3 linked regions of the Homo sapiens genome follow. The protein of the gene in region 1 interacts with the protein of each later gene in a pairwise test. Each region holds a gene or a part of one and is shown in the gene's direction. Other genes may lie near its edges. The genes, in order: DNAJC1, CMTM7 and TNFRSF10C.

Region 1 (3,751 bases):
GCAGATTCTGTGTCTGGTGAGGGCCTTCTGGTCATAGATGGCACCTTCTTGCTGTGTCCTCACATGGTGGTACGGGCAGGGCAGCTCTCTGGGGCTTCTTTTATAAGGACACTAATCTCATCCATTAGGACTCCACCTTCGTGATATAATCACCTCACAGAGGCCCCACCTTGTATTACTGTCACAATGGGGATTAGATTTCAACATAAGAATTTCGAAGGACAAAAACATTCAGACCATAGCATGGTAGAAGGACATTCAAGGAAGAGCAGACAGTAAGCACAAAGGCCAGGAGGCAAGAGCTTGCTTAGCGTTTGAGGAATAGCAAGGCAGGCAGTGTGGCTGGAGCAGAGTGATCAAGGAAAACAGTAATGGGAGAACAGCAATAGGAGACAAGATCTGAGTCATAGGTGGTAAGGGAAGACCATGTAGGGCTTTGTAGGCCATTGTAAGGACTTCGGCTTTTACTTATAAGTAAGTTGGGGGAGGTGGTGTTTGAACAGAAAAGATACATGATTTGACTTGAATTTCAAAATGATCTCTTTAGTGTACTGAGTATAGTCTGTGAGGCATTAGTTACTTAGAGGGATAATTGTGGTATAGATTGGACCTGGGTGGTAGCAGTGGAGGTGGTGCAAAATGGTCAGATTCTGGATTGAATTTCAACATGGAGCAAACAGAATTTTACTGATGGCTTGAATGTGGTATGCGAGAGAAAAAGAGAAACTGAAGATAATTCTAAAGATTTTTGGCTTCAGTAACTGGAAGGATGCAATTGCCATTTGTTGAGATGGAGAAACCTGGACTAGGAGCCTGGTTTGGAGAACATCAGGAATTTGGTTTACGGACATGCTAAATTTGGGGTGTCTGTTAAACGTTGAAGTTGAGCTGGTATGTAGGCAATTGGTTATTCAGGTGTAGAGTTACAAGAAGAAAGTTTAGGGCTGTAGATAGGAATTTGGGAGTCCGAGGCACTTAGAGAGTAACTTGAAGCCACAAAACTGGATGAGTTCACCAAGGGAGTGAACGTAAAAGAGAAGAGAAGAGATCTGGGAGCTAATAAGCCTTGGGGATTCCAGACTTTAAGAGTCAAGGAGCCGGGTGTGGTGGCTCACGCCTGTAATCCCAGCACTTTGGGAGGCTGAGGCGGGTGGATCACGAGGTCAGGAGTTCAAGACCAGCCTGGCCAACATGGTAAAACCCCGTTTCTACTAAAAAGATAAAAATTAGCCAGGCGTGGTGGCAGGCGCCTGGAATCCCAGCTACTCGGGAGGCTGAGGTAGAGAACTGCTTGAACCCGGGAGGCGGAGGTTGCAGTGAGCCAAGATTGTGCCACTGCACTCCAGCCTGGGCGACAGAGCGAGACTCCGTCTCAAAAAAAAAAAAAAAAAAAAAAGAGTCAAGAAGATGGAGGGGAATCAACAAAGAAGATAGAGCAGGAACGACCAGTAAGGTAGGAGGCAAACCAATACAAGGTTCTCTTCAGTCAAGTGAAAAAAGTGTTTCAAAGACAAAGGGATCAGCTGGGTTAAATGATGATGATGATTCAAATAAGATGAGCTTTGAGACTTCACCGTTGGAATTAACCGTATGGCGGTCACAGGCTACCTCAGTAAGAACTGTTTTGGTGAAGTGGTGAGTTCAGTAGTCTGGGTAGATTGGGTTCAGGAGAGAATGAAAGGGAAGAATTGGAGACAATTAATATAGAACATTCTTTTGAGATATCCATATCCTAAACTAGAAGGCAGAGATGGTAGTGACTGTCTGTGGCATCTTCTTTATCCCCTTATCCACCAGGTATAAGATAACTCAGTTACTCTCTAAGCTCTATAATCTGAATAACAGATGACTTAGAACTTGGACCAGACCACCTTATGACCTTGGACAAGTTAGTTGCCTCATTTTTAGGACAGATGGTAGCTTTTTATTTTCTTCATAGTAAGGCACATAGTAAACACCTAAATATTTATTGAATCAAACATTATAAACATTGTAACTAAATGCAAACTGTAATTCCCCAAACAAGTAGTTGCTTGACAGTTTTTACTCAACAGATTTTACTTCTATGTAATCTTTCACAGCCTTCAGGCAGCAGAAGAATCTTCTTCCATGTATCCTTAGATTTCACGTCCATTCTAGAAGTCTAGAAAGGGGTTGCAGAAGTCTTTGTTGGGGGGTATATACAGATGATTTATTAGTCATTCATACCATGTTTAGAATGACTTTAATAATAGGGCACTCCAATTTGGATATTGCATCTTTTCAGAGGAGATGGGGGGAAGATGAGAGAGGAGTGTAGGAAAAAAGATGTGCTATTGAAAGATCTTTCGTTACCATCTTAAATTATAGGTTCCTGCACAGTATTTATATTTTGTGTAACAGCACCTGCTTCTCAGACACCTGTACTTCTTGTGGGGTCAGTGGCAATTCTGTATTTCTTTTTTTTTTTTTTTTTTTTGAGATGGAGTCTTGCTCTGTCGCCCAGGCTGGAGTGCAGTGGCGCGATCTTGGCTCATTGCAACCTCTGCCTCCTGGGTTCACGCGATTCTCCTGCCTCAGCCTCCCGAGTAGCTGGGATTACAGGCACCTGCCACCATGCCTGGCTAATTTTGTATTTTTAGTAGAGATGGGGTTTCGCCATGTTGGTCAGGCCGATCTTGCACTCCTGACCTCAGGTGATCCACCCACCTCGGCCTCCCAAAGTGTTGGGATTACAGGCGTGAACCACTGCGCCCAGCCTCTATATTTCTTTTAATTGTCTTTTGGGACCATGACTTTCCTTATCCTTTGTATACAGTAATTCTAGCCAACAGTAAACACTTCATATTCATTTAAAAAAATCTGTGAATTGAAATAATGACAAGCTAAATTATCTTAAATTTTGTAGTATTTACTTTATGCTGAAGTCAAGATTTGTCTTCATGGTGCCAGTCAGTCATTACAGACTTCTATTTATGTAGCTAGAAAATGTGCTTCATTCTCTTTCTCTCGTGTTTTATAACTAAATCCTTATATTCAAATGAATGCTGAAACTTGGTTAACAGAAGAAAAGCAGAAGAACAGGGATGTGCTTATAAAATATTTGGATTTTAATTTTTAGATAGGAATTAATAAACCTTTTAAGCTCATTCGGCCTGTATTTTCAAATGTACAGATTAGCTAGCCTGTTTAGAGGAGGGACAATTATTGCCCATTCATCCGTGCCCCATGGTTGGGAGGAACTTCCCTAAAAAAACACCACTGATCACTAGACCCATCTCTAACATCTTACCATGGCGGTGTGAGTTACCTTACTGGAGGGTGATTGCCTTTGCTCTGTTTTGCTTGATTAGGAAGAGCTGATCAGTCAGAAAGCTATGAGTAGTGGGAATCAGTCTCTTTGCACCTCTCTGCCCAGACCAGTAAGGCAATTATCCTAACCAGACTTACCCTTGAGCATACTGTCTCAAAGTCTAGAATGTAGAGGAGAGGGCACAAATTGCTAGCAAGCCCATTTGGCCATCACATTTAACCTGTATTCTTCAATAGCTGTATCAGTTATAAAGGTTCATCTCTTGTCTGCCCGACTCCTGTGTCCACTCAGTTTTTTGGATGGGAAAAACCAGTTAATGGGGCCTCCCTAAAGCCCATCACAGTCCTTTTTAGAAATGAAGATGATGATTTCATTCATGAATGATGGTGAATTTGTACTGTGATTATCAATTTTGTCCAGTGATTCTTGCAGTGGAATCCACTGAGCTTGTGGTGTTGA
Region 2 (3,751 bases), on another chromosome or scaffold:
GAGGGCTCAGGTCTGCTGAGGAAATGTTCCCAAGCATGGGTGGCAGGAGACAGGGTCCTGAGACCACCAGACACCTCCCCAGCCCAATCAGAAGCCGACGTCTCTTGAAAACTGCCTCTTGAGTTTTCTGTAGAGATTTTTCATCGTAGACCTCAAAATCTCATTTCTTTCTGGAAGGATGCTCAGCCAGGCTGAGAACCTGGGCAAACTTTCTGGCACCTGGCTGGTTGCGGGTGTACACTCAAGCTGCAACCAGACTAGTTTGGTTCCAGAGTCCTCAGGGGACCATCACTTTTCTCAGATCATGTCAGCTTCCTTCATCTCTTGTGAAATTTAAACCCTCTGCTCCTTCCAAAAAATCATGTCTTCTTTCTAGTAAGAATTCTGACAGAATGGAGTCAGAAAGGACACAGGTTCCAGGGAGTGATGTTTCTTATCTGGAATTCTAATTCCAGTGATTCTGTGGTATCATGGCTGGTCTGTGGGACCCTTGCTTTGAGTTGAGGGCTCTTGCAGTGTTACTTTTAAACCCCTGGACATGGCTGGGCACCGTGGCTCACACCTGTAATCCCAGCACTTTGGGAGGCTGAGACGGGTGGATCACTTGAGGTCAGGAGTTCGAGACCAGCCTGACCAATATGGTGAAACCCTGTCTCTACTAAAAATATAAAAATTAGCCGGCCGTGGTGGTGCACACCTGTAGTCCCAGCTACTCAGGAAGCTGAGGCAGGAGAATCGCTTGAACCCAGAAGGCAGAGGTTGCAGTGAGTGGGGATAGCGCCACTGCACTCCAGCCTGGGTGACAGAGTGAGACTCTGTCTCAAAAGAAAAAAATAGGCCGGGCGCGGTGGCTCACGCCTGTACTCTCGACACTTTGGGAGGCCAAGGCATGCAGATCGCAAGGTCAGGAGATCGAGACTCTCCTGGCCAACATGGTGAAACCCTGTCTCTACTAAAAATACAAAAATTAGCTGGGCATGGTGGCGCATACATGTAATCCCAGCTACTTGTGAGGCTGAGGTAGGAGAATCCCTTGAACCAGGGAGGTGGAGGTTGCAGTGAGCTGAGATGTTGCCACTGCACTCCTGCCTAGCGACAGAGTGAGACTCCATCTCAAAAAAATAAAATAAATAAAATAAACCCCTGGACATTTATGTTAGATATTTTATTTTTATGACAGTTCAATATAAAAGAACAAACCGTTACGAGAGGAGCTAGAAGGCACCTTAAGAGGCAAGTGAACCCTTTGGACAGCATCACTTTGAAGTTACTCTACACAGAAACATCTGTCTTCCAGGAGCCTCCCAGCTGCTTCACTCCGTCCTGAAGTCAGAACCCCTACCTCCAGTCCTCTCTGAATTCAGGCGTGTTTGTGCATTTGCTTTTCTAACTGGGAACACGAAGACACCTGAGAGGGTTGGAGCTGGCGGGAGGAGGGCAGGGATAAACACCCCAGCGCCTTTTCCCCACTATTGTCTTGTTCTTTCTTCCACTTCACCTTTGCTTTCTTTTTTAACTTGTATATTAAGTTCAGGGGTACTTGTGTAGGTTTCTTATATGGTAAACTTGTGTCATGGGAGGGGGTTGTTGTACAGATTATTTTGTCACCCAGGAATTAAGCTTCTAAATAATTCAGGGGGCCCCAGCATTTGCAGAAGTTACCTACTGGCTTTAGAAGAATTTCTGAAAAGTTTGATGTCAGTCAAATCTTTTTTTTTTTTTTAACTTAATATGCTGGCTAAGATGCTGGCTATTTAAAGTTGGAATGAATGAATCCCTGGGCAAAAAGGAAGCTTTTAGGAGCACGCATAAGCACACACCATACTCTGGCTAAATTAGATTTTCTAAAATTGGGCTTTCCTAAAGAAAGTCATATGGTAGATGGCCATAGGCCCAGTGAACCGAATTCAGAAAGTGTTATTTCATGAGCAAGTTTCCCAGAAAGGTTCGAGATGTTTCTGATAGAGCAGGAATGTACTTCCTACTACACAGTACTCAGCCCTGGAGGCTCAGAGCAGGAAGACCTGACCTGCACAGGCCCCTTTTGTTGGCTGGGAAACTTCCACATCCCTGTGTCACCATGAAAAAGAGCTAACTTTGTCTTCAACGACGAGTTGGAAAATTATTTTAATCTCTGCATTAAACTAGATGCAAAATTGCCTCTCTACCTAGGAATCACGCTGCATAATCCCACATTATCTGCATTTTCAGTCATGCCTTGAATAATGATACTTGAGTTCTTGAGGAGGTCATTGTGGGGCTGGGAAGACCCCTAGACTTCCCCATGTAGATGTGGCCTGGAAGTAAGACTAACGTAGCAGCAAAGCCCTGGCGATCATGCACACTCCTGAGTAAGGCAGAGGTGTGAATCATTATATCACCATGGCTGGCTAGCTTCAGAGGAACCGAAAAAATGAAAACACTTGCGTTGCTCATTAGCAAAGGGAAATACACAAATGTTGAGGGACTCTTTGTGTCACAGCCACACTCTTCTGTTTCGATCTGGTAAGCAGAGCACTCTCCATACCTGCTTCAAGCTTCCAGCTGAGAGTTCTCTTTTAGCTGTTGTACCTATTGCTGAGGATCTTGATAGTGGGCTAGCAACAAGGGGCTTTAGAAAATAAGAGCATTTCAGCATCAACTGTTTTAACTGGAGTAAGATCCATTTTGTGATTTGATTTGATTTTTATTTTTTTAGAGACAGACTTTCACTCTGTCTTGCAGGCTGGAGTGCAGTGACGTGATAATAGCTCACTGCAACCTCAACCTCCTAGGCTCAATTGATCCTCCCACCTCAGCCTCCCAAGTTGCTGAGACCACAGGTGCATGCCACCACGCCCAGCTAGTTTTTGTATTTTTTGTAGAGACAGGGTCTTGCTTGTTGCCCAGGCTGGTCTCAAACTCCTGGCTTCAGGTGATCCACCCGCCTTGGCCTCCCAAAGTGCTGGGATTGCAGGCGTGAGCCTGGGATGCCAGGCATGCACCAGGCCCCATTTTGTGATTTAATTCTCATTGTAGACTGACATTTTCTATAGCAGAATTTTTCAACAGTAGTACTGTAGTTGAGGGGCCACATTTGGGGCTGGAGATGGGTAACTCTTTACTATGGGAGCTCTCCTATTTATTGCAGGGTGCTTAGCAGCACCCTGGGCCTCTACCCACTAAATGCCAGTAGCAACCCCCATCCCCGCAAATTGTGTAAACCAAAAATATATACACACATTGCCAAATGTCCCATAGGACACAAAATCATATACCCATACGCTAACACACCCATACACTAACACCACACGCATACACACACACACACACACACACACACACACACACACTTTAAGACTCGCTGCTCTGGCCAGGCGTGGTGGCTCACACCTGTAATCACAGCACTTTGGGGAGCTGGGGCAGGCAGATTACTTGAGTTCAGGAGTTTAAGACCAGTCTGGCCAACATGGTGGAACCCCCTCTCTACTAAAAATGCAAAAATTAGCTGGGCATGGTGGTGCATACCTGTAGTCCCAGCTACTCTGGAGGCTGAGGCAAGAGAATCGCTTGAATCTCGTAGGCAGAGTTGCAGTGAGCCAAGATCATGCTACTGCACTCCAGCCTGGGCAACAGAGTGAGACTCCATCTCAAAAAAAAAAGAATCACTCCTCCATAGGAGAGAGGCAGTGTATAAAATAATCTTTTTTCTAAATTGGTTGTGCATTTTAAATAGATTCCTGGCTGGAAACAATGGCTTACGTCCATAATC
Region 3 (3,751 bases), on another chromosome or scaffold:
AATGCATATGGGAGGGAAGATATCTCTTCAATATACTGACGTCATTTCCTTTGGATGTATACCCAATAGTGGGATTGCTAGATCATATAGTTGTTCTATTTTTTGTTTTTTGAGGAACCTCCATACTGTTTTCCATAATGGCTGTACTAATTTCCATTCCCACCAACAGTGTACCAGCATTCCTTTTTCTCCCCATCATCAACACTTGTTACCTTTTGTCTTTTTGGTAATAGCCATTCTTACAGGTGTGAAGTGATATTTGGCACTTGATGGTTAGTGATGCTGAGCATTTTTTTCATATACTTTTTGGCCACTTCTATGTCTCCTTTTGAGAAGTGTCTATTCAGGTCCCACGCCCATGTATCCATTTTACTTGGATTATTTGATTGTGTGCTATTGAGATGTTTGAGTTCCTGTGTATTTTGGATTTTAACCAAAATCTTGGATCTTTTGAATATTGACCCTCATTCTGTAGGTTGTCTCTTCACTCTGTTCATTGTTTCCTTTGTCATGCAGAACCTTTTTAGTGTAATGTAACCTCATTTGTCTGTTTTTCCTTTTGTTGCCTGTGCTTTTGGGGTCATAGTCAAGAAACCATTGCCCAGACCAACATCATGAAAATTTTCCCCTATGTATTCTTGTGGTAGTTTTACCATTTCAGATCTTATGTTTTAATCTTTAGTCCATTTTGAATTAATTTTTACATATGATGTGAGATAAAGGTCTTATTTCATTCTTCTGCATGTCAATACCTACTTTTCTCAACACCATTTATTGAAGAGCTGTCCTTTCCCCATTTTGTGTTCTTGGTATCTTTCTCACAATCAATCAACTGTAAATGCATTGATTTATACCTGGGTTCACTATTTTGTTCCATCAGTTTATTTACCATTGTTGTGCCATTACCATTCAGTTTTGATTACTATACTTTTGTAACACGTTTTAAAATCAGGTAGTACGATGCCTCCATCTTTGTTCTTTTGTTTGTTTTGCTTAAGATCACTTTGGCTATTTGAGGTCTTTTGTAGTTCCATACAAATCTGGGCGTGGTGGTGCGTCGCCTATAATCCCAGCTACTCGGGAGGCTGAGGCAGAAAAATCGCTTGAACCAGGGAGTTGGAGGTTGCAGTGAGCCGAGATTGTGCCACTGCACTCCAGCCAGGTGACAGAGCAAGACTCTGTCTCAAAAAAAAAAAAAAAGACACATGAATATACATAACAGTCAGGATGTCCTGATGGGAACCATGAAGAATAGTTAAGTGACAGGAGATAGACAAGGTTGGTGGGGCCTCTCGGGGATGGTGATTTGGGCTGATATTTAAAGTTGGACAGGGCCAGTCTTGCAGAGAGCCAGGAAGAGTGCTCTTGAGAAGGCCCTGAAGGAATGAGAACCCCAGGTTTCGGGGGCTTGGGGAGACTGAGCGAAGACAGGGGGCCACTGTGGTGAGTGGACAGCAAACAGGTCAGGTGGACCAGCATGGGCAGATCACATGTACAGTAGGTTGGATGTTATTTTGTGAGTGACGGCGTAAAAAAAGTAAAATATCTCAATGATGTGTATTGATTACATGTTGAAATGTAGTATTTCAGATATTTTAGGTTAAAACTATATTGTTAAAATTAATTTGGCCTCATTCTTTTTACTATTTTAATATGGCTCTCATAGAATTTGAATTTTGCATAGAATTTGAATTTTGTATTATATTTCTGTCAGCAGTGCCAGTCAAAGGTATGTAATAGATGCTGAATGGATGACAAGACCAAGCCTGGAAGAGTGGATTTCTCTGTCTCAATTCCAGTGAGGGCCAAAAAAGAAGTTTCCCCACCACTGTCAGCCTCTGGGAATTCTGTGGTGACTCATTCATTGGCTTTTCTCTTCCTTCCCAGGATCTCATAGATCAGAACATACTGGAGCCTGTAACCCGTGCACAGAGGGTGTGGATTACACCAACGCTTCCAACAATGAACCTTCTTGCTTCCCATGTACAGTTTGTAAATCAGGTACAGAATGTGTGGACCTCTTGTCCAGAGGTGGAGCGTGGGGCAATGAGGTGGGAGTTGTAGCCGATATGAGTCAGGGAACCAAGTTCCAGCCCAACCTGGTCTTCATCACCCTGTTCTATGATTATATATTTGACTGATTAAAAAAATAGAAAGAAATCTTTTCTATAATGCATGCCACCTGGCTGGGAAATCGTCTAAACTGTCAGCTGCAAGAGGGTGGGGGGATCATTAGAGCATAGAGAAGGCCTGGCCCAGTGGACAGGGCTAGGTTTCAGTAGTGGCACGGGTCTGCTCCAGGGCCAGGCTCTCTCCCCCAGGCTCTGTGCTCCTGGCAGGTGCTCGGCCTCACTCAGCCTTCAGGTTCTCAGGCCCCTTCCTCCTCCCCAGCAGGCCCAGGCTTTGGGGAAGTCCCCCAAGGCCTCCGTCTCCTTGCAGAGTCTCTCAGGTGATGCCCTTGCACCTCCCTTGCTACTGACCATGCCATCTAAACAATGCTTTTCCCCTAATCTGATGTAATAAATAATGAATTATGCTCCTTTTTATGACTCCTCTGAGTGCTGGTGACAGCTGAAGGGTGGGTGTCCTGTATGAGCCCTGAGTGTGCTGGTGCAGAAACTGGCCCTTAGAACTCCTTGGTGAACTTGGTTGAGCTGAGTGGGAGGGGGTGGGTGGTAAGGAAGATCGAGGGATACATCAGGGAAACACATTCCCAAAACCTTATGCTCTGTTGTCAGATCAAAAACATAAAAGTTCCTGCACCATGACCAGAGACACAGTGTGTCAGTGTAAAGAAGGCACCTTCCGGAATGAAAACTCCCCAGAGATGTGCCGGAAGTGTAGCAGGTGAGACAGCAGTCAGGGGCTCCTGACAGCTTTCAGGAACCCGAGAAGACCTGAGTCACCTGGTACCCCTATTTCTCCGCTGACCCTATGGAGCCTCCAGACCCATGGGGTGTCCCTGAGCCTGTGGGGTCTCTTGGGTCTGCAGTGGCCGCTCCTGGTCCATCTGCCTGTCCCCACCCCTACCCCCTGCAGCAGCCCCTTCCCAGACCCTCCCCAGCACGAGTCCCCTTGGCCAGACCAACTTGTTCACTGGGCACAAGAAGCAACTTTCTGGATCCCTTGATCCTTTTCAGCAAACCTAGGAAATGCGATTTCCTTTTGAAATGAGAAGAAAACACTTGAATCCAGTCTGGGTTGTATTTGTTGCTATACCAAGCTGTTTTAAAAAATGTTCTTTTTAATATTTTTTATGCAGGCAGGACCCATAAAGACAAAAGTGGTCACGGCCGACAAAAGTCATAAGAAGGCTGTGGGTGGAGCTCCTTCAAGTTCCCATGAAGGCCTGAGCCAATCCAGCCGGCCTCACCCCTGGCCCCAATCCCTCAATAAGTCCTGTCTTTTCCCTATTTGGGCTTTAAGGGCCAAGAGTAATTTGTTCTTCTCTGGCCCCCTAATGTTTGCCGTGATAGGGAGGAACCAGCAGACAGTTGGGGGTGAGAGATCACTTGTACTGTGGGTTGACTGGAGGAAGGGGCTCAGCTTGTGGCCACAAGGGCTCGTGACCTTCCCCTGGAGTGTGGCTCCTCCTAACGCAGGCCTCCTCTGCAGCCCAGGGAAGCTCAGTGTGTGCCCGGCACAGAAGGCTCCTGTGGCCCCAGAGCAGGGAGGCTGAGGGGCTGAAATGCGCATGCTCAGACCCTTCCCCAGCCTCAACGAGGGAACTTGGGGGACCCCCTCCAGACAG

What was found.
Region 2: the proteins of DNAJC1 (region 1) and CMTM7 interact in binary tests that used the Homo sapiens proteins (3 or more experiments, as listed by UniProt).
Region 3: the proteins of DNAJC1 (region 1) and TNFRSF10C interact in binary tests that used the Homo sapiens proteins (3 or more experiments, as listed by UniProt).

The regions. Positions count from the first base shown.
Region 1 is NC_000010.11:21,997,097-22,000,847, reverse strand, and holds part of DNAJC1 (dnaJ homolog subfamily C member 1 precursor), read left to right. Parts: intron 1-3,751. UniProt on the Homo sapiens protein: May modulate protein synthesis.
Region 2 is NC_000003.12:32,436,775-32,440,525, forward strand, and holds part of CMTM7 (CKLF-like MARVEL transmembrane domain-containing protein 7), read left to right. Parts: intron 1-3,751.
Region 3 is NC_000008.11:23,112,770-23,116,520, forward strand, and holds part of TNFRSF10C (tumor necrosis factor receptor superfamily member 10C precursor), read left to right. Parts: intron 1-1,887; coding exon 1,888-2,001; intron 2,002-2,738; coding exon 2,739-2,847; intron 2,848-3,751. UniProt on the Homo sapiens protein: Receptor for the cytotoxic ligand TRAIL. Lacks a cytoplasmic death domain and hence is not capable of inducing apoptosis. May protect cells against TRAIL mediated apoptosis by competing with TRAIL-R1 and R2 for binding to the ligand.